2 separate regions of the Homo sapiens genome follow, and region 1 is linked to region 2. Evidence: fine-mapped expression QTL. A gene starts in region 2. The other region holds a variant in brackets. All regions are shown on one strand. Distances are from middle to middle.

What was found. PIP is the estimated chance that this variant, and not a neighbour inherited with it, causes the effect.
Region 1: its variant is the best candidate, but not a certain one, in a credible set for the expression of METAP1 in visceral fat (GTEx, PIP 0.60).

The regions. Positions count from the first base shown.
Region 1 is chr4:99,279,319-99,287,318 of GRCh38, reverse strand. It overlaps ADH1A (alcohol dehydrogenase 1A (class I), alpha polypeptide), which reads left to right. Exons shown (of 9, transcript NM_000667.4): 3 at 331-469; 4 at 2,516-2,603; 5 at 2,701-2,920; 6 at 4,713-4,973; 7 at 7,040-7,175; 8 at 7,755-7,893. It overlaps LOC100507053 (a long non-coding RNA gene), which reads right to left. Exons shown (of 10, transcript NR_037884.1): 5 at 286-524. Among named protein-coding and RNA genes, the nearest start is that of ADH1A, 7.7 kb to the left of the region's middle. RefSeq lists an enhancer at 1-1,052. The variant T/C (reference allele first, on the strand shown) is at 3,309.
Region 2 is chr4:98,988,012-99,004,238 of GRCh38, reverse strand. METAP1 (methionyl aminopeptidase 1) reads right to left here and starts at 8,518. Exons shown (of 11, transcript NM_015143.3): 1 at 8,372-8,518. The coding sequence starts at 8,485. It overlaps MIR3684 (microRNA 3684), which reads right to left and starts at 6,852; the gene lies at 6,779-6,852. RefSeq lists enhancers at 7,323-8,105, 9,027-9,076 and silencers at 7,847-8,306, 8,467-8,786.

The DNA of each region.
Region 1 (8,000 bases), 290 kb before region 2:
AATTAGCATTAGATATTTTTATGTATTAATTTGCAACTTCTACTTCTATTTTTTAAAGGCATGCATTCTTTTATATTATTTAAGACTTAACTATTTCAGGATCAGTTACTTCACAGATTATTCTAAACTGTTTACTTCAAGAATGGAAGGTAGAGGAGGGTTTCAGCCTGGTCAACCTTGAGGATAAACTGAATCTTTCATACTTGGGATAGTAGGGATTATTAGCAAAACCCTTGAAAACATTTTGGAAGCGCAATTTCAGGGAACTGGGATTTTTAAATTCACCTGAGACTCACAATCTTTTATAAACATCTTCTCTTCACTCTGTAGATGGTGGCTGTAGGAATCTGTGGCACAGATGACCACGTGGTTAGTGGTACCATGGTGACCCCACTTCCTGTGATTTTAGGCCATGAGGCAGCCGGCATCGTGGAGAGTGTTGGAGAAGGGGTGACTACAGTCAAACCAGGTACAGGATTCACATTCAGGAAACATGATGGTTCACCATCCTAAGATTTCCCAGCCTGAATGAGGAAACAGAGGCAAAGAGGGACGAAAGGGCTTGACCAAGGTCACCGCGCAGCCAGGACTTCAGGGATTTCCTCTTTCCCTCTCTTCCTGCCTGACTCAAGCATGTATGTCTTTAGGCACGCATGTATTCTACCCTTCAACAATTATGTACTGAGCATCTGCTAGATGCCAGTCACCAGGTTGGAGCCTGGAGATATGTGAGGATCAAAAGGGACACAGTGCCTACTAGTGTGGCATTCATAATCTAGTAACTTCCGTGTTAGTGTTGGTGAACACGGTCTTCTGTCAGGGCCCAGACACCTAGAAATGGGAGGAGGGAAAAAACATAAGTATGGACATTGTTCTGTGCTGAGTTCACAAAATGGACGCTACATGGCTACGGCTGAATGAGCATGACCTTTTCTTAGGTGACCTATGCAGCCCCTTCACCAATTTCCTCTTGCAACGTGGTCTCTCTTCCTGAGCAAGGAATCAATGAAGCAGACTAGGTGAAAGGAAATGAAAGAAACATAGAAAGAGCCATCCACCATCAACAATGTCTGCCTTATTACTTTCAGCCATGCTTAAATGTAACTGGTTACGGATTACTAATTATAAAGGGAGAATAACTAGGACACTTCCATACTATCATTTTCACATAAATTTTACCTATAAAATGTTATGGGCCAACCATTTTTCTTGGTCTTGTGGAATAGACAGCATAGGTAATTTAAAATAAAAATTATGTTTAATTCTAAAAAAATCACTTTTTTTTTTTTTTTTTTTTGAGACGGAGTCTCGCTCTGTCGCCCAGGCTGGAGTGCAGTGGCGCGATCTCAGCTCACTGCAACCTCCACCTCCCGGGTTCACGCCATTCTCCTGCCTCAGCCTACCGGGTATCTGGGGCCACAGGTGCCCGCCACCACACCCAGCTAATTTTTTCTGTTTTTAGTAGAGACAGGGTTTCACCATATTAGCCAGGATGGTCTCGATCTCCTGACCTCGTGATCTGCCTGCCTCGGCCTCCCAAAGTGCTGGGATTACAGTCTAAAAAATCACTTTAGGCACTAGATTGGACCTGCCACTTTACCAAATACTTATTTGAACTGTGAACAGAAAAATAAAATGAACTGTCCAATTTGGGTTTCAGCTCCTACTAATTTCTTTAGTAGTAATAAATTAATAACTACTGAATAATAACTAATAACTACTAAACTACTAATAATAACTACTAAATAATACTAATAGTAACTAATTAGTTAGTAATAAGTTAATAACAAAATGACACCCTTACTTTTTACCCATGCTCCCTCCACTGTAACAGGAAAAGTAGATAATTCACAAATTATCAGCTAAAAACATTTCAAAGTCAGTTCTTATCCTAAAAGTGCCTAACTTATTGTGGAGGGTTGAAATTTCCAGAGGAATTTCTGGAATTGTTCTTTGTCCCATTTTTGATAGTTTTCCTCAAAAAAAGAACTGAGATCATTTTAAAAGCATTCATTTCATAATAAAGATAAACCTAGTTACTTTGAAAAGAATTAGTTCAAAATTCTCATTTTTATTGTAAATCAAACTATAACAAAAAACAGGTCTTACCAACATCTAGTGGAACTATTATACCCTACTTTCAACTAAAATTTATATTTATACTTACAGTAAGATTTATATAGTTAAGGATTAAATTAAATGTTTGTAAAGCCTCCAGGAGAAATTGGTACACCACATGAAAGTAACTGTTAATACAGTGGAAGCAATTTTTCTAATCCATGTTGTTTCCCATATTTGCATGTCCTCTTTAGGAATCTTCAGGCACTTATAAACCCAAACTGGAAACAAGGCTGTGGCAGGCAATGACAAATGACATATTTGTGATTGGACTGTATTTCTTGGAGACTTTTAAAGACACATGTTTCTAATGTTTTAAAGACATGTGAGCTTTATGTTTTTGCTCTATTAATACCTGGATAGAAATTGTAAAAGAATTTGTTTTATCCCTCTCCAGGTGATAAAGTCATCCCACTCGCTATTCCTCAGTGTGGAAAATGCAGAATTTGTAAAAACCCGGAGAGCAACTACTGCTTGAAAAACGAGTAGGTTTCTGATGCTCTCCCTGCGCAGACATTGAGTTTGCACATTAGTTATGGTCCTGTCTCATGCCTTTGTGTGTCTTTGTATTGCACTGTCCAGTGTAAGCAATCCTCAGGGGACCCTGCAGGATGGCACCAGCAGGTTCACCTGCAGGAGGAAGCCCATCCACCACTTCCTTGGCATCAGCACCTTCTCACAGTACACAGTGGTGGATGAAAATGCAGTAGCCAAAATTGATGCAGCCTCGCCTCTAGAGAAAGTCTGTCTCATTGGCTGTGGATTTTCAACTGGTTATGGGTCTGCAGTCAATGTTGCCAAGGTAAGAATGGCAATGGGTGATAAAAACAGTTACACGCAGACTGTCAGGAACCCAAAGGGAAGGAATGTCTCACAAGAATCGAAGATTATTTTTGTAGATTTTGAATGTCGACTAAGAATAGAAACACAATCCAGAAAGAATTGAGAGCACATGCTAGAAGTTTCACCTGTTTATCAGATTAAAAAGTTGTTGAGAGTTTAGAAAATGTAAAGATTTCATTTTCAATAATTACTCTTCTGTATTTGCTCTTTATGAGCTCATGAAATATTAGGCCTGAGAACTCATTTAGTAATTCATTCTACAATTAGAGAGCACCTACACATGCTTCAGGCACCATAGGTTCTGCTAGGCTCTGACAGCAAAAGTAAATGAAATGAAGCGTTTGCCC[T/C]TGAGGAGCAGCTAGTCTGTGGATCCTCTACTCCCAGAATTAGGATCAACAACAGTAGAGTCCAAAACCTTACCTGATGCACCTCCAAACCAAGGCTCACCCACTCTGTGGATTCTTAGACTGAAAGTAATGACGCTTCAGTGATGCGTAATTCACTCATTATGACATTTCACTGCTAAAACTAACTCCCCTGGCATGAACACACACATATATTCAGAAGTGGTAAATTTCAAGCAGAAATTCTTTAAAGGCTTCTTATCTGAGTAGGCTGAAAATCTAGTAGTATGCTTTATTTTATGAAACCGAGGCCCAGAGATATAAAGATATTTGCCCAAAGTCTCACTGCTGGTTAATATGAGAGCTGAGACTAAAATATCTTTTACTAATCTCCTGCTGAATCTTAGATCATGATACATAATTATTAGCACTTTTAAATCACAGTCACAAGCCTTGTATTTTTCTAAGTAAGTTAGAAAATGGTGTTGTCCCCCATAGTATTGCATACCACTTGGTGAATGAATGAATGAATGAATGAATAGACACCCTTAAGGGAATATAAGAATGAGATTATTTGGAACAGGAAGAGCATGTTACGCAAAATGAAGGCGGACTATGGGAGACTAGGTTTAATAAATATCCCCTGGCCAATTAAAAAAATGTAGATGGCATCTTTTCCAAATTTCTGTGACTTTAGCTCTTAGTCCCTTGTTCAATTGCCTCGTCTATTTTAACAGGTGATCTAAGTGAGCCTACCCAAGAACAGAAGATGAGGATACTCATAACAATATATTTTATTATTAAAATATAGACTAATGTTTCATTACTGTGTTATTCACTAGTGTATTTTTTAAAGCAGGGATATACTGGTCATGACTACTGAACATAAATGAACCAAGGAGTTCATTACTGAGGGTTTAAGTGGAATATTTTTCAGTCTCCTGGAGTAGCCTTTTCCACTTATTTTGTTTTCCAAATATTGCCTTTGTGTATATATGAGTTACTGAAGCTGGCTATCAAGGGATTTCAGCAATCGAGAGTCCCTTCAAGATTGTAATCACTGCCATCTGGATCTCAAAGATCATCCAGTCGCCTGGTTCCCAGCCTGACCTTCCCATTGGAGTCACCTGGGGACTAAGTTCCACCTGCAGAGCTTCTCATTTAATTGGCATGGGCTGTGACCTGGACAGTGGGATATTTTTAAACCTGCCCAGATGAATCCAATATGCAGCAGTTTGAGAACCACTCAACTAGTTCAACTCCATGAATTTAAAAATAAAGCAACTGAAGCCAAAAGAGGTTTTGATAACAGATTGAACAGAAGAGTTTGAGCAGCTTTTGATAAACACTAAGCATGGCACTTTATAAAGTTTTTATAATCCATTTTTGCATTTTCTGAAAACACAGGTCACCCCAGGCTCTACCTGTGCTGTGTTTGGCCTGGGAGGGGTCGGCCTATCTGCTATTATGGGCTGTAAAGCAGCTGGGGCAGCCAGAATCATTGCGGTGGACATCAACAAGGACAAATTTGCAAAGGCCAAAGAGTTGGGTGCCACTGAATGCATCAACCCTCAAGACTACAAGAAACCCATCCAGGAGGTGCTAAAGGAAATGACTGATGGAGGTGTGGATTTTTCATTTGAAGTCATCGGTCGGCTTGACACCATGGTATGTACCATGACATGCCCTGAGATTTCTGCCTCTACAACTTGGAGGATGCATTTAGGCTGCAGAATATATGTTTTCTGTATAAAGGATATTTTTAATGATGAATGGAAATTTCCCATCATCTGTTTGTTACCTGGCTTGTTTAATTTATTGTTATGAGGAATCTTTTATTCTATCAACTATGCAAACGTGTCTCAAGTCATATTTCCTCTAGAGGAAAAGCAAAGGGCTTGTTTTTCTTAACTGAGTGATAATAGATTACTTTGTTAATTTTTAGTTAAAAACTGTAAGTTAAAGTAAACATAAATAATACAAGTTCTGTTCTCAAATTGGAATGTTTTATTTTTCTGCCACATTCTTAACAAAAATGATTTAATAATTTTGCATATGTTCTTAATAAATTCCAATTTTTTTAAACATATTAGTATTTGGCCAAAAGAAGTAAGCAATTTTAGGCCAACTATTGTTTTATTAACAAAAACATGCCCTAAGGAAAGTGAAGCTCAAATGCATTACTATATTTTATCACAGAAACTGGACAGTACCTGGCACAAAACTAGAGCCCAATACTAGTAGGACTGAATACTTTGAAAAGTCAACAGATTTTTATCACCCCCCAAATTTCAAAGCTATATACTCATGGCATTGTTTATAGATTGCATGAGACAATGCATGTAATATACTTAGCACAGTGCAGCCTGTCATATGGTAAGCTCCCAATAAATGTCTTCTTTTTATTTGAGACAGGGTCTCACTCTGTCACTTAGGCTGAAGTACAGTGGCATAATTATAACTCACTACAGCCTCAACCTCCTGGGCTCAAGCAAATCTCCTACCTCACCCTCCAAAAATGCTGAGAATATAGGAACGAGCTACCACGCCCGGCCTCAGTTGGCGTTATTGATATGAAATACTATTTCCAATCTTGCAGTACTTACATCATCTTTGGCTTATTACATGATATTGCTTTCAAACAGTTACAAATATCAAAGGCAATGGGAAACACATCTCTAGCTATATTTCACCTACCCAGAATTCTCTAGAATCCTACTGAAAAAGTCTCCAGAGACCAACACGTTTCCATTGCCAAGATTTTCTAGAAGGTCCAGCAGTGTGGGTAATGGGGAGCAGCACCCTGAGATCAATGCTCTCAGCAGCCTTGCCCTGGGACAAATGCCACAGATGAATGAAGTGTCAAGAGATTCCACTTTTTCCAGGGCTATAGCTTTTCTCCTAATGTTCTTTTCCTGTATCTTCCTCCATTTTCTCATGTGGAACGGGAGTGTACCTTATCTCAAGATACCAAATATCTGACAGCCACATGTTCTGAGGATGTCTGGTCTCCCAAAGGTCAGAATCCAAAATCAAAGAACTAATCATTACATATCTTGGGGCAATCCTAAACCATTTTCTAACTATAGAACGTGTTCAGAAAGCTCACTGGAAAAGACTTTCTGAACGGTCTTTTGAGGTTCCCTAATAATCAGGGTATTTTAATGTAAAACCTATATATATTTGGGGAGATAAAAACAATGTTTAAAACATGTCCATTTGAGAAATGGACAGTAGAACAGGAATCCATTACAAAAGGAGACCATCAAGTGGACAAGAGACTACTTTGGTGATATAATCATTTATCTTGTTTCCCATTAAAATATGTGGTTGAAAGTAATGGGTTCAAAATACCTATGTAATAAATCAATGAAAAATGAATTAACCAACTCACAGATTGCCTAAGAATTATGTGATGATGAAATTGTATGCTTATATAAGGAACTGGACTTAATATATATTTGTGATGATATCTACCACTTTATTCCTTTATTAGGAAAAATTAAGTGCACTCCAATTTATTCATCCATTCTTTCATTAAAAAACCGTTTTCTGGGCATTTCCTAAATCCACAGCACTATCCCGTGCAAAAAAGGGGACTGAAGGAGCAAAAGACATAATCTCTTCCCTCTACACACTCACAATCCAGTTAAGCCTATTACATGATATTGTGCATTATGAATAGGAACTATGCGACTCCATGTTAAGAATGCTAAGTGTTCACTTTATTCCAGATGGCTTCCCTGTTATGTTGTCATGAGGCATGTGGCACAAGTGTCATCGTAGGGGTACCTCCTGATTCCCAAAACCTCTCAATGAACCCTATGCTGCTACTGACTGGACGTACCTGGAAGGGAGCTATTCTTGGTGGTATGTAGTTAGGCTTCAGAGCCAAATTCTCATTAACCTCAGCATATCTCCCCTTTTACAAGTGACAAGGCAAGGTTTTGAAAAGCAGATCAAAAACAAATTAAAATTCCTTTTCTATCTACAGTCTCCAAATCAACTAGATATGGAACTAATGCAGGCAGAAGGTCCCAAAATCGACATTTCTGATGCCACCATTAACAAAGTCTGTTCCTCTTCATCTGTTTTCGTACTTGTAACTGTGTAAGGCATGGGAATTTCTAGTAAGACACAGAAATCTACAACAATATTTCATATCTACACCCAAATTTAGACAACTGTTAAACTTGTTCCTTTGGGCATAACATCTGTACTATGATTTCTCTGTGGGAGAGAGAATAACCAGGGACCCTTGTTTATCTGTGATTTTTTTTTAAGTCTGAGCCTGTAAAAGCTTATTGAGGTACTGTATCTCTTATTAACCTCAGTCGTTGCAGTCTGGAAGCAGCATCTTTTCTAAACTTTCATTTATTTGGAAAATCTTCTCTTCAATTCTCCTACTTACCCTGGTTGAATCTAACAATGATACCATCTTCTTTTCAGGCTTTAAAAGTAAAGAATGTGTCCCAAAACTTGTGGCTGATTTTATGGCTAAGAAGTTTTCATTGGATGCATTAATAACCCATGTTTTACCTTTTGAAAAAATAAATGAAGGATTTGACCTGCTTCACTCTGGGAAAAGGTAGATTTTTTAGTTAGTTTTCTGTTTTGCTTTTTTTTCTACCATAGGGGATTGTCTAGCAGAAAATGAAAAGGTGGAAGGATGAGAAAAATTAGAGTGCCTTGGTT
Region 2 (16,227 bases):
CCTGAAGGAATGAAGATTCCATAAAAACCCAAGAGGATTGGGTTCAGAGAGTTTCCAAATAGCTAGCTGAACACTGAACTCATGGAAGCTTGGCATCCCTTCCCCAATACCTTGCCCTATGCATCTCTTCATCTGTATCCTCTGCAATATCCTTTATAATAAACTAGTAAAATAAGTATTTTCCTGAGTTCTGTGAGCTGCTCTAGCAAATTAACCAAACCCAAAGAGGGGGAGCCATGAGAACCCCAACTTGAAGCCAGTCAAGTTTTAAGTTCCGGAGGCCCAAACTCGTGACTGGTGTCTGAACAGGGTGGGAAAGGGGCAGCTTCGAGGACTAAGCCCTCTATCTCTGGGATCTGACACTATATCCAGTCAAACAGTGTAGGAAATGAACTAAAGGACACCCAGTTGGTGTCCACTGCAGAAATGATTGCTCGCTTGGTGGTGAGGAGAAACCCCCATAGGTTTGGTTACAGAAATCATCTGTGTTGATGACTGTTGTGGTATGAGAACAGAGGGAAAAAAGTTTGAGTTTTTTTCCCAAACATTTACTAATATTTTTATTCTACTCAATATCAAAAACAATTTAGAAAACATACATCGACAGATCCTGACTTTATGGTCCTTAAAACTTTAATTCAAAAGCAATATTAAATTATTCATGTAACAACATTCACATTTTTCTCTATCATTTGTTTAGTGGAGTGAGAAGTTAACAGTATTCTAATAGTCAATCCCATCCCTATTACCAGTTAGTGAAATAATCAGTAATAACATAAATCCCCACTCAGAAGACAAAAAAAAGTTATGACATTTTTAAAACCTAACGGAACTTACATTTACCTATTTTATTGAACGACTAAGCCTGTAACTTGCTGGATAAGACAGGGTTAACCTTCAGAATGTGATGCAAAGATTGGTTTGCGTTTTGTACTTAAATCACAGAAGAATCATTAAACACACATTCAAAACACAGAGAAGTCTCTGTTGCCTCCCACTTTATAATGATAAGGGAAGTTGCTAAAGTTACAATTTCACTTATCATTTATATCCTAACCACTCTTTAAAGGCTTGAGCCTGTGACCCAGATAAATGCCACATTAGCAGATAGCAGACCCCAATTAACAGGGGCTTTTCTTGGTTTGTTGTTTTTTGTTTGTTTGTTTGTTTTTGAGACAGTCTTATTCTGTTGCCCAGGCTGGAGTGCAGTGGCGCAATCTCAGCTCACTGAAACTCCACCTCTCAGGTTCAAGAGATTCTTGTGCCTCAGCCTCCTGAGTAGTAGCTGGGATTACAGGCATGCACCATCACCACCCAGCTAATTTTTGTATTTTCAGTAGAAACGGGGTTTCCCCATGTTGACCAGGCTGATCTCGTAGCAAGATATCTGCCCGCCTCAGCCTCCCAAAGTGCTGGGATTACAGGCATAAGCCACGGCGCCTGGCCTTAACAGGGTTTTTAGAAATGCTTTCCAACAGACATGGCACAGCTCTGGTGTATCAGGAAGAAATCTTTACTGAGCCTTGCAATAAGTCAGGTTACTGGAGATAAAAACAGGAGAGAACTTATTTACAACTTACAAAGCATGAGAAGTTCCATGGGGTCCCTATCCTAGTTTCATCCATAAGGTGCCCCACACACACATGCACACACAATGAGAAAGGCAGGCCTCGTTTACAGAGTGTTTTGAATTGCTCTTTATTCAAACCCAGAGACAAGACTGATACCAATCAAGGAAATCAAAGGAAAAGACTTATAATTGTTGAGCTGGGAGCACTACCTGCCCAAGCATGAATAAAAGAATGCTTCATGTTAAAACTGTGAGGTCAGGCGAAGTTCAGGATCAAGCACAAAGGGTTGTAATTACATTTATATTCCATTACATTAAACATTTGATACAGAATGAAGCTCAACGGTTGCTTTATAAAGTATTTCTGCCTATTTAATATCTATCTAAAAGTGTTTGCTATTGCAGTAATACCAAAGACAATTACAGAAGGAGTTACCGTGCCACTGCTTTTCTTCCGAATATCTAGAGCTGGAATGAGCTTAGCTATGCACTTATGTCTGTCACTCCTATGAAATTTACTAAAACTTAACTAAAATTTTGCAAATATGCTAAACATGAAAAAGATTCACCTTAAAAAACCATGACTAAAACTTGATTTCAATCCACAAACTAAGTGAACAGTATAAGATCACATTTCCTATAGCACTTCAATTTCCAAAAAGGTAACTCAAAGACTGGTATAACTTTTGATTGCCTACCAACCAAATGATGCTCGTTTTTTTGTTGTTGTTGTTTTACAAATTCTACTGTAATGTAGGTATATTTCATGCCAAAACTTCATAGATGACCAGAAGGCCCTCAAACCAACAATAATCCACTAACTACACTGTGAGAACCACTGTTCTGGAAAAGGATATAGAATTAGCTTAGGATAGTTCAATTCTGGGTTCATGTACCAAATCCTGTACCATTATTATACGTTCCTGAGTAAGTCAAAATGATTTAAATTTTCGAGGAATATTTATTGAAGAGTAAACAGAAGGTAAAAAATTGAAAAGAAATTAAATTCAACTATAAGTGAATAAACAAATGACAGTACACCCATAACAGTCTTTATAAAGGATCATGTAAATGTAGCCATGACATGACACTACCAAAACACTGGTTAAGACATTAAGGATGAGAAAATTCTCTAAGATTATATGTATTATGGTTGCCATTTTTGTAAAAACATACACAACTGTGTGCACATGAATAAATACGCAAATATGTTCTTAAGAATACACACCAAAATTTCATAGAAATCATCTCTGGGTAATTGATTATCTTCACACATATTTTCTATTTTTCTACAATAAACAATTTATGAAATTATTTTTGTTTTGTTTTAAAAAGACTCATAATTTCTCTTTACCTCATCCTATCTTTTTGCTTATAAGAAGCTATGGCATTTGTACCTAAACTCAGCTAACTTACAGGAGTGTTTAAGGGTGGTCTGAAGTGACATGAGGAATTTAAAGAAAATCCCTATAAATAAAAACGCACAACATGATAATATCTCCTTTAATGAAGATGAATTCCAGAAACACCCTGCACTGGCAGGAATGTTGTTACTGACAGAGAAAGTTTCAGAGGGCAGGGTTGCATTTCAAAGATACTGCATGTTATAACGGCAATTCCTTCTCTACCTTCTAACTCCAACCTACAAGATGCTCAACAAGACTTTCTTCCAGCCAGGTGCAGTGGCTCACACCTGTATAGACAACACTTTGGGAGGCTGAGGCAAAGTGGAACTCAGAAATTCAAGACCAGCCTGGGCAACACGGTGAAACCCCGTCTCTACCAAAAACACAAAAAATTAGCCAGGTGTGGTGGCTCAAACTGGTGTTCCCAGCTACCTGGGAGGCTGAGGTAGGAGGATCACTTGAGCCTGGGAGGTGAAGGTTGCAGTGAACCAAGATCACGCCACTGCACTTCAACCTTGGGTTGACAGAGTAAGATCCCAACTCAAAAAAAAAAAAAGAGAGAGAGAGAAGAAAAACTGTCTTGTTATTTAAAAAAAAAAAAAAAAAAGACTTTCTTCCTGGATTCAGTTAATCATGTTACCTACCACTTCTTTTAAAGAACCTATTATTGGATTTGTCAAAAATGTTCATAAACAAGTAACATTTCCCCTCAAAGATTTTTAAGCCTTCCTTGGTACTGATTTTAATAACATTACATATGAGGTTATATGCACAATAAGGCCCAAATTTACTATATGCTCTACTAGGCACCCTGGATGCTCTCTTAGTCACCTTCTGCTCAACTCCATTGAAGAGGATGCTTCATTAAGCAAAGGAGGGGACTTACCCAAGGTCATGGGAGCAAAATCCAGGTCTCCTTCCACTTACACTATGCTTACTACCTTTTATGCCTTATAAATATAAATAGTTACAGATCACTCAGGTCCCTCCCAGCTGATCCTCTAACCAGAGGAGACAGCAACTGCCCTATGCTATTCACAAAGTTAAACATCAGCTAAAAAACTGAAAAGTAACTAAATTCAACCATAAGCAAATAAATGAGTGTATCAACAATATACTATACTATTCAGTGTTTACAAAGGATAATGTAAATACAGAATTTCTTTGTTTTCCATTGCAAGCCCACTGATGTCTTTTCTTTCATGTAAGGAAATGAGGGCCTACTGTGGGCAAGGCACTTTGGAAAATACAAAAATGAGTAAAACACACCCTCTGTCCTCAAAAAATTCTTACACACAAATGAAAAAGACATACATAAACTATTAAATAGGAAGGAAAACTTCTATTAATAAACACAATCGAACATCAAGAACTCTTGGAAAACTCAATTTTCAAGTAAAACTGGTTGTACTCCTCTAAAGAACAAAAGCTTTCCTTAAAATCAAACATCCTAGGCTGGCACAGTGGCTCATGCCTGTAATCCTAGCACTTTGGGAGGCTGAGGTAGGCGGATCACGAGGTCAGGAGTTACAGACCATCCTAGCTAACACGGTGAAAGCCCGTCTCTACTAAAAATACAAAAAAATTAGCCAGGCGTGGTGGTGCGCACCTGTAATCTCAGCTACTGGGGAGGCTGAAGCAGCAGAATCGCTTGAACCCGGGAGGCAGAGGTTGCAGTGAGCCGAGATCACACCACTGCACTCCAGCCTGGGTGACAGAGCAAGACTCGGTCTCAAAAAAAAAAAAAAAAAAAATTAAGCATCCTAGATAAAATATTTCTACTTTCCTAAACATAAAACAGTATAACAATAAAAAGAGCTAACATTCATTAAGTTTACTAATATGCTAAGAGCTTTACATACTTTGGATTTAGTCTTCATCAAAACCCTGAGATAGGTATTATTAATAGCCCCATTTTAAAAAGATACAGCTGAAAAAGAGAGGTTATTTGCCCAAGTCACATAACTAGTAAATGATGGAGCTGTGATTCAAACACAGCAGTATACCTCTCTATTTTGATGCATTTATCCATTAATTCAAACATTTAATGGCCACCTACTGCATACAGAGCATCATACTGGGAAATGAGAACAGGGCAGTGAACAAGATAGGATCATTCATGAAGTTCACCTTCCGACTAAAAAACAGACATTCTCGGCCGGGCATGGTGGCTCACGCCTGTAATCCCAGCACTTTGGGAGGCCAAGGAGGGTGGATCACCTGAGGTCAGCAGTTCGAGACCAGCCTCAACATGGAGAAACCCCATCTCTGCTAAAAATACAAAATTAGCTGAGCGTGGTGGTGCATGCCTGTAATTCCATCTACTTGCGAGGCTGAGGCAGGAGAACTGCTTGAACCTGGGAGGCGGAGGTTGCGGTGAGTCGAGATCGCACCATTGCACTCCAGCCTGGGCAACAAAAGCGAAACTCCGTCTCAAAAAAAAAAAAAATCCTCATTTTTCTAACAGGTGAGGTAATCATAGATTGCACAAAAGGTCATAAAGGAATAAACAAGGTGGTGTGACAGAGTAACTGGGAATGCCTTACTTCTGTTAATGGTGTGATAGAAAGGCCTCTTGCAGTTTTGTTCTGTTTGTTCCCAAAGACAAGCTGGCCAGACAGCCAGGCCAGGGACCAGAGCAGTAGAAAGAAAGACCTCCTAGTGATCACAGAAGTGTTAAGGAAAATCCCTAATTTCTTCTTTTTGGTTTTTTGTTTTGTTTTGTTTTTGTTTTTTTCTTGAGACGGAGTCTTGCTCTGTTGCCCAGGATAGAGTGCAGTGGTGCAACCTCGGCTCACTGCAACCTCCACCACCCAGGTTCAAGTGATTCTTGTGTCTCAGCCTCCTGAGTAGCTGGGACTACAGGCGTGTGCCACCACGCCCAGCTAATTTTTGTATTTTTAGTAGAGACAGGGTTTTGACATGTTGCCCAGTCTGGTCTCAAACTCCTGACCTCAGGTGATCCACCCGCCTAGGCCTCCCAAAGTGCTGAGATTACAGGTGTGAGCCACCATGCCCAGCCAAGCCCATATTTCATCACAGATGTATAAAGCGCTTAGAATAAGTTACAGTGACTTGATCAAGGTCTCAAGCTGGGATTGGGGGAACAGCTGTGATTTCAGAAGACAGGTGACACTTCGGAAAGGAAAGAATGTAAACATAGCCTTTGGCTAGAGCAAGAGGCTCAGAAGAGGGGCCCTGAATGTGGGGCTGGAATCCTGAAAGCAATGAGGGATACGCATAATCAGACTGCGGGAAAAATAACTTCTGTACAAAAGGTTTTGTTTGATAGGGTTTTTTGTGGGCGTTTGTTTGCAAGGGGAGGAATTACAGTAGAGAAATAAATTAAGAGAGTATGACAACTGATTTGGTGGGAAATTTTAAAAGCTGACCATAGGAGGTGGTAACAGAAATGAAGAAAAAGAGACAGTTGGGACAGCCACTCTGGGAATATTTGAGTGCATGTCTAACAGTGATACCAGAAATATACCTGCAGAATCCAACATGTAAATACCTCCAATCCTAACACACGGAATAAACCCTAGATGTTTTGTTTTCACAAATTTGTCTAGCATTTTTCCACAAACCCCAGTGATTCACCTTCTTTCTACCTGTTTCATGAATGTGGTTTCACACTACCTTTTTAAAATCTTAACAGAAGATTGTAATACATATTAATTCAAAATGCCACCTACTTTTAAAGTTATTCTACTCAGATGGTACAACTGTCAAAAGCAAACACTGTTTCTTAATTTCAGGTCCCACACAGGCCACAACAAGATAGAATTTGGGAATTTTAAAGAATCTAAAGGACGTGTACTAGGTCTAACATGAGTAATGCTCAACATGTTAAACCTAGTACAGGTCCTTTAGATTGTTCGGTAATGCTATTTTTAGATCAAGCAACACTCCTCCACGTGCAAGTTTTTCCAAATTATACTAACAAGGTCAAGGATCATATCCTATCTAAAAACAAGACTGTATAACACAGCTAAGACCTTTTGCAATCGCTTATCTACAAATATTGTGACGTAAAGATTGTATTTATTTATATCTTTACGTTTTTATGTTTTATGTTGGAAAACACTTTTATTATTTGTATTGTGTTCATATATCTGCCTTCATTCTTATTCATATTTTTATTTATGGCAGAGTTAAATCGTACTAGAATCCTTTAAAAAATAAAGGACTTTACATTATAACAGCATTTCACGTTCCTTGGATAATCTGGGTCTCAGAAGAAGCTTGTGAAACTTACAAAGAAAGCTATAATCATCCCCTCTGTACAGTGTAACACTGGAACTCAGAAAGATTAAGTAACTTTACTAATTCAAGATCGCACAATAACTGGCAAGGGCAGGGCCCCAATCAGGCCTTCTCTTTATTCCGGCTCTCCTCCCCACAGGACGCTACCAATTTAATATTTGAATATTCATGTGCCTCTCTTCACTAAACCTGGACTGTAACTAAGAGCCATACTATTGCCGCCCAGCCCTCATCCTGGGTCTCGAAATGCAGCAGCAACACTAGTACTCTTCAGTAAACAGAAACACGAGCACACGCTTCAGTCTGGACCCCATTCAACGCTGGGTTTGCTCTACTGCACAAAACTTAAAATACACTACAGCATTCACGCCTAACCCTCAATGGAACTGTCCTTTTCACTCTGGGAAATTCAGTCACAGGTGACTCATCCCGTTAGCTTACAGTTTTGTAAATTAATAATTTTATATACCGAAAGAAAAGAATGAATTACACAGACCTCTCCCTTCCCCACCCCCAAAGTTGCTTAAGTGTCAAAGCACGGTAGTAAAGCACAAAGAAGTGGGGCTGGAGCTAGCTAGCGTTCCTCCTCTCTGCGACTCCGACGGTCCTCGGGCCACCCATCTCTCAGAGCCCGGCAGGTAGCTTCAGCCCCCCACCCCGCAGGGACCCGACGGACGGCCCGGCGCCTCCAGCGCCCAGACCCGAGCCCCGCCGGTGCTGCGGATGTGGAGGCTCGCGACGCTCGGGCTGCCCTCCTTCCCGGCGCCGCTACCTGCCTCCGGCAGCCCGCACACCTGGCGGCCCCCGCCCCAGCGCGGGGAACCGGCCCCAGAACGCGGAGGTCTAGCGCGGCCACGCGACCCCGCACAGCCCGCTTCCGCCCCAGCCCACATGGCCGCGGCGGGTGGCGCCCCCGCCCCCGCGTGAGCCCAGCGCGGTTCCCGAGGACCCAGGGACCCCAGGAGGCAGGAGGGGGCGGTGGCGACGCGGGTGGGGGGAGGAGGAAACGCGGCCGGGGGGAAGAGGAGGAGCGCGTCCCGACTCGCCGCAAGGGCGGGAGGAGCCAGCAGGGGAGAAGCGAGGAGGGGTCCCGCAGCGGCGGCATATCCGCGGGGCAGCGGGCGCCTACCTGCGAGCAGAAGTACGAGCCCTGGATGCCCAGCTTGATGCAAGTGGGACACTGGAGCTTGGCCTCACTGCTGCAGCCGTCTGTCTCGCACACCCGCGTCTCCACGGCCGCCATGCTGCCTGCCCGCTGGAAGAGCGCCTCACCGAGGAAGAGGCGGCGGCGGGAGGGAGGAACTGCCGGGCGGAGGGGAGGGGAGAGAGACCGAGTCGGGGGAGGAGCTGGGCCCGCCGCTGGCCTGGGCGCGGGAGGGGGAGGAGCCAGGGCCGGCCGGGACCACGCAGCGCGCCCCGCCCCGGCCCCGCCCCCGCCCCGCGCGCGCAGCTGGTGCCCCGCCCCGCCGGCTTCGCCCCGCCCCCCGCCGGCGGTGCCTGCGTGCCCAAGCCTCCCGGCGGCGCGCACATTGGGGCTGTAAGGGAGCTCGGCAGGGCCCCCCCATTCGGCGCCTTCGGGCGTCGGCCAGCAGAGAACGCGACCTGCCGGCGCCTGACGGTGAGGAGCCGCCCTCTCGCGGCGCACTCTCTGTGCCTACAGTCAGATAAGACAGTCGTCTTCACTGACGAACACCCAGGAGCCCTGATCATCCCCGACACCCGCAGGAGGCTAGAGAGGGCGCTGCGCTCCTCTGCGTTGGATTCCCCCGCCGCTCCTTGGAGAACAGTCCCTTGGGTTAAGTTCTGTTTCTCACTGACATTGTCGGGTCTGAGGCCTAAGGACCACCGCTCATTCACAGAAAGGAGAGCCATAGAGCTGTCAACGGGACGGTGGGCTGGGATTCACATCTGCCCTCCCTCCTGCCAGACTTTTTTTTTCCACACACCACCACCTCCCCTTCAAAACCGATAGTGCTAGTAATAGTAACACAACTGTCAGGTATTCAATACAAATAATTTTTTTGTATAATCCCAGTTGATTGCTTCAGCAGTAAATAGGGGAGAATTGTGCTGATCCTGAAATGTCAGAGTCGAAAGAAGCTGTAAAGGCCTTCCCCTGCGAACCTGTTGCTTCAATCTTTTCAGCTGTATTCCAGGTCGGTTGTGTTGTAACTCATGCTTGAGTGCCTCCTTGTCACTAGGGAAGAGCGAAAAACTAACATTTACTGATCACAAAAGGCTGTGAACTTTGTTATTGTATTTTTTTAACTTCTCCGTACTTAATACACCAGAAAAGCTCATACTACTTTTATTTTTAAGAACTTTGTTTTGGCTAGGAGCGGTGGCTGACGCCTGTAATCAATCCCAGCACTTTGAGAGGCCAGGGCATCCAGGGCACCAAGGCCAGCGGATTCTTTGAGGCCAGGAGTTCGAGACCAGGGTGGAAATATGGCAAAACCCCGTCTCTACAAAAACTAAAACTAAAAACTAAAAAATTAGCCGGGCATGGTGGCAGGCGCCTGTAGTCCCAGCTACTGAGGAGGCTGAGCTGGGAGGATCTGTTGAACCTGAGAAGTCAAGGATATGGTAAGCTATGATCCTGCCACTGCACTCCAGCCCAAACGGCAGAGCAAGACCATGTCTCAAAAAAAAAAAAACTTAGTTTTGCAATATAAGCAGTAAAAATGATGTAATAAAATCAAGTAATAGAAATGTTTACATGCATACATACATATACTTTTGTATACAAGAAAAAAATCAATAAGTATGTATGTATGTATAAAATATTTTTTAAATAAAAACTGCACCATACCATATAAAGTAATTTACTTACCTGATTTCTTCAGTTACTATGATGTCAACTTTTTGTTTGTCGTTTGGTTTTTCTTTGAGACAGCATCTCATCCTGTCAACCAGGCTGGAGTGCAGTGGTGCTCACAGTGAGAGGTGACAGCGAGGTGACAGCATGCTGGCAGCCCTCGCAGCCCTTGCTTGCTCTCGGTGCCTCCTGGCCTCAGCTCCCATTCTGGCCGTGCTTGAGGAGCCCTTCAGCCGCCGCTGCACCGTGGGAGCCCTTCTCTGGGCTGGCCGAGGCCAGAGACGGTTCCCTCAGCTTGTGGTAGGTGTGGTGGCAGAGGCACGGGTGGCAACTGCGGCTGCGTGCGTCGCTTGCGGGCCAGCTAGAGTTCCAGGTGGGCGTGGGCTTGGCGGCCCGCACTCAGAGCGGCCGGCCGGCCCCGCCGGCCTCGGGCAGTGAGGGGCTTAGCACCTGGGCCAGCAGCTGCGGAGGGTGCGCCGGGTCCCCCAGCAGTGCCGGCCCACCAGTGCTGTGCTGGATTTCTTGCCGGGGCTTACCTGCCTCCCCACGGGGCAGGGCTCAGGACCTGCAGCCCGCCATGCCTGAGCCTCCCCCGGCCCCACCGTGGGCTCCTGCCCACGTGGCCCAAGCCTCCCCACGAGGGCCACCCCCTGCTCCAGGGCACCCGGTCCCATGGACCACCCAAGGGCTCAGGAGTGTGGGCTTACAGCTCGGGACTGGCAGACAGCTCCACCTGCGGCCCCAGTGCGGGAACCACTGGGTGTAGCCAGCTGGGCTCCTGAGTCTAGTGGGGACTTGGAGAACCTTTATGTCTAGCTAAGGGATTGTAAATACACCAATCAGCACTCGTATCTAGCTCAAGGTTTGTAAACACACCAATCAGCACCCTGTGTCTAGCTCAGGGTTTGTGGATGCACCAATCCACACTCTGTATCTAGCTAATCTGGTGGGGACTTGGAGAATCTTTATGTCTAGCTAAGGGATTGTGAATACACCAATCAGCACTCTGTATCTAGTGCAAGGTTTGTAAATGCACCAATAAGCATCATGTGTCTAGCTCAAGGTTTGTAAATGCACCAATCAGTGCTCTGTGTCTAGCTAATCTAGTGGGAACTTGGAGAACTTTTGTGTCTAGTTCAAGGTTTGTACACGCACCAATCAGCAACCTGTCAAAATGGACCAATCAGCTCTCTGTAAAATGGACCAATCAGCAGGATGTGGGTGGGGCCAGTTAAGGGAATAAAAGCAGGCTGCCCAAGCTAGCAGTGGGAACCCATGGGGGTTACTTTCTGCACCGTGGAAGCTTTGTTCTTTCACTCTTTGCTATAAGTCTTGCTACTGCTCACTCTTTGGGTCCACACTGCATTTATGAGGTGTAAGACTCACCATGAAGGTCTGCAGCTTCATTCCTGAAGCCATCGAGACCACCAACCCACCCGGGAGAACAAGCAACTCCAGAAGTGCCGCCTTAAGAGCTGTAACACTCACCGTGAAGGTCTGCAGCTTCACTCCTGAGCCAGCGAGACCAGGAACCCACCAGAAGGAAGAAACTCTGAACACATCTGAACATCAGAAGGAACAAACTCCAGGCACGATGCCTTTAAGAACTGTAACACTCACGGTGAGGGTCCATGGCTTCATTCTTGAAGTCAGTGAGACCAAGAACCCACCAATTCCGGACACAACAGCTCACTGCAGCCTCAACATCCTGAGCTCAAGTGATGTTCCTGCCTCAGCCTCTGGACTAGTTAGGACTACAGGTACACGCCACCTTGCCCAGCTAATTTTTTAGCTTTTTTGTGGAGACAGGGGTCTCACTATGTTGTCCAGGCTGGTCTTGAACTTCTGGGCTGAAGTGGTCCTGTCACCCCCGCCTCCCAAAGTGCTGGGATTACTGGCACAAGCCACTGCACACAACATTCTTTATTGTCATCAATTATACTTTTACCACATAATTTTAATGTCTGCATAATATTCTATCGTATGGGTAATTTACTGAACCAAATCCACTAATAATGGACATTTAGGTTATTTTAAATTGTTATCTATTATAAACAAGGTTTCAGTGAATATCCGTTTAGCTAAAACTTTACATACATCCTTATTTACTTAGGAGATATATATATATATATATATATATATTTTTTTTTTTTTTTTTTTTTTTTAATAGCAACAGGGTCTCCCTATGTTGCCCAGGCTGGTCTCGAACTCCTGATCTCAAGCCATCCTCCCACCTTGGCCTCCCAAAGTACTGGGATGAGCAGGCATGCAGCCTGCATGCAGGCATGAGGCGAGGAGGTCTTCAGATACAGTCTTAAAAGTGGAATTGCTGCGTTAAGAGTTTTCACTGTCTTTTGTTCTTTATATAGTTTGCCATATTTTTACATATCTCAGTGTAACTCCCTACAAAACGTTTATCATTTAAAAAGGAAAAATAGTAACTTTAAAGTGGAGAGACCTGGGAGATACTCTTTATTGTGATCAAAGTGAAAAATCACCAATAATGTGACAAATAGACATTGTACACCTCTCTATATGAACCATTGAGGAGAATACAGTATTATCTTTTCTAGTGTTCCTGAAAAAAAATGCATAAATGCCTCTAATCATGAGGAAATATCAGACAAACACAAGCTGAAGACATTCTACAATATAATTGACCTATGCTCTTCAAAATGCCAATGTCCCAAAAGACAGATTTGAAGAACTCTTCCAGATTCAAGGAGACTGAAGAGACCTGACAGCTAAATGCAACACATGATCATGGGTTGGATTTTTGGATCAAAAGAAAGAAAGGTTTTTGCTATAAAGGAAATTAGGTTGCGTTGTATCCTTATGAATTCCCTGATTTTGACAATTACACATAGTGGAAGTCAGAAAGAGAAATGAATGATAAGACAAATGTGAGAGAACGTTAAAAATTGGAGAACCTGGGTATAGCAGAGTTTTTTATTTTTTCAATTTGCTACTTTTCTACAGCTTTGAAATTATTTTAAAATAAAAGTTTTAGAAATTCTTCCTCTCAAAAGCAAGTAAATGGTGCTAAAAATTAAAAATTAGAATTAAAAATTCTTCCTAGATGCTCAACTGCAGGATCAAGTCCAATCCAGGCTTTTTGTGTATACCTCCACGTAACTCAGCCTCGTCTCATTATTTTTCATGCCTAGGCCTTGACCATTTAGCAATAGCAAGATGCTCATGTTTTCCTGAACACATAGTGCTATTTCATTCTTCCATGTTCTTATACATGTTGTTTCCTCTGTCTGGATTGCCTTTCCCCACTTGATCTCTTGGTGAAAGTACCATTTCCTTAAGATCCGGCTCTGACATCGCTTCACCCATTAAACTTCTGCTGACCTCCTTAGCTCTACTTAATCAGTGCCTCCTCTGTGCTACCTCTAAACCAAGTACAAAGTGCTATTGTTACAATTGACAATAATTTTAGGTAACATTTATTAAGGACTTAATATATCCTAGGCATATAGTCATGTGTATGACATTCCAACACTTGGGTCAATGACAGAGCACATATACAACAGTGGTCTCATAAGATTTATTATGCCATATTTTTACTGGAACTTTGTATGTTGAGATACATTTAGATACACACATACCACTGTGTTACAATTGCCTACAGTGTTCAGTGCAGTAACATGCTGTACAAGTTTGTAACCTCAAAGCAGTAGACTGCCTGTGCACCACACAGCCAGGCGTGTAGTAGGCTACACCACCTAGGTTTGTGTAAGGACACTTTATGATATTCACACAACCACAAAATCACCTGACAATGCGTTTCTCAGAGCATATCCCCATGGTTAAGCAACACATAACTAGTGAGATGTAAAAGTATAGATACTAGTGCTTTTACTTTTAATCCTCACAACTACCCTATAAGGAAGGTACCAGTAGTAATCCCATTTTTATTTCTGTAGCCCAAGGTCACATAGCCAGTAGGTAACAGAACCTAGAATTGAGCTCAGGTTTCTCAGACTGCAAATCCCATGTTTTTAGCCACTATACTTCATTGCCAGTTTTTCACCTGTGTCTCCTACTAGACTGTGACTTCCTTGTAACAACAGATTTAATTTATTTTTCTCTCTATCTCCAAACCTTAACCCTAGCACAATGCTTGATATATAATAGGTGCTCAATAAATGTTTGGCTGGGCATGGTGGCTCTCACCTACAATCTCAGCACTTTGGGAGGCCAAGGCAGGAGGATCACTTGAGCTCAGGCATTTGGGACCAGCCTGGGCAACATAGCGAGATCTCATCTCTGCCAAAAGTAATTTTTTTTTTTTTGAGACAGTTTCGCTCTTGTTGCCCAGGCTGGAGTGCAATGGCGCAATCTTGGCTCACCGTAACCTCCGCCTCCTGGGTTCAAGCGATTCTCCTGCCTCAGCCTCCCGAGTAGCTGGGATTACAGGCATGTGCCACCACACCCTGCTAATTTTGTATTTTTAGAAGAGACGGGGTTTCTCCGTGCTGGTCAGGCTGGTCTCAAACTCCTGACCTCAAGTGATCCACCCACCTTGGCCTCCCAAAGTGCTGGGATTACAGGCGTGAGCCACTGTGCCCAGCCTAAAAGTAAAATTTTAAAAATTAGCTGGACCTCGTAGTGGTCACCTGTCATCCCAGCTACTTAGGAGGCTGAGGCAGAAGGATCGCCTGAGTCTGGGAAATTGAGGTTGCGGTGAGCTATGCTCACACCACTGCACTGCAGCCTGGGCGACAGAACAAGTCCCTGTATCAAAAATTAAAAATAAAAGTTTTTTCTTCTCAACTTGTTAGCACATTATGTCAAATATGCAAAAAAAAGATTCATGTGTCTGGAGAGAGAAAAAGAGAGAGAATATCTATTCTATCAGTCAGAACTCAGCAACCCAGCAAAAAAACAGATGGCACTCTCAAGCTGGGTAACACCAAATAAATAAAATGGTATTTTTGTGTATTTATTTTAGAGTCAGGGTCTCATTCTGTCCCCTAGGCTGGAGTGCTGTGGCTCAGTCATGGCTCACAGTAACCTCGAGCTTCTGGGCTCAAATAAGATTGTCTCACACTACAAGTACTTACCGCCACTCCCAACTATTTTGTTTTTATTTTTTATAGAGATGGGGTCTTGAAATGTTGCCCAGACTGGTCTCCAGTTCCTGGCCTCAAGCCATCCTCCCATCTCAGCCTCCCAAAGTGATGGGATTACAGGTGCAAGCCACCATGTCCAACTACAGTCTCTTCTTTTTCTTTGTCCCCTTCTCTGTTCCTTAATTCAGGATGGCTATAGTCTCGATTAAACTCTTCATTCTTTTCAAATTACCTGTAATCCCAGCACTTTGGGAGGCTGAGGCAGGAAGACAGCTTGAGGCCAGGAGTTCCAGACCAGTCTGGGCAATATAGCAAGACCCTCATCTCTTTAAAAAATAAAAGGCCGGGTGCAGTGGCTCACGCCTGTAATCCCAGCACTTTGGGAGGCCGAGGTGGGCGGATGTTCGAGACCAGCCCAGACAACATGGTGAAACCCCATCTCTACAAAAATTATCCAGGCATGATGGTGGGTGCCTGTAATCCCAGCTACTGGGGAGGCTGAGGTGGGAGAATCGTTTGAACCCTGGAGGCGGAGGTTGCAGTGAGCCAAGATCGCGCCATTGCACTCCAGCCTGGGCGACAGAGCGAGACTCCATCTAAAAATCATAATAATAAAAATTAAAATTAAAAGAAATTAAAAACAAATAGTTAAAATTAGCCACAGGTGGTAGCATATGCCTTTAGCTTCAGCTCCCTGGCATTGCTTGAGCCCAAGAGTTCAAGGCTGCAGTGAGCTATGATCCAGCCACTGCACTCCAGCTTGGGTGGCAGGGTTTCGGAAAACTGTAAGGAATGGTGTAGTAACTGAGTGTTAACAATAGGACATTTCCATTTCTGGCCCTGCAGGCACAAGGGGACTGGGCAATTACCAAAACTCACAGTGGGCTGGGTAGAGAGGGCCTCCAAACAGGAGATGTGACCTCTGCTTAAGAGACCTGGCCAGCCCAAAGTCATCCTAAAAAGTCAGGAAGCTGAGACTTCATTCTCTTCCACCTTATGATCTTCTGAAAGCTGGGACAAGGAGCCCATTGATCCTATAGAAGACCACACAAGTCAGCCTCTCAGGACAGAGGGCAGAAATGAGAA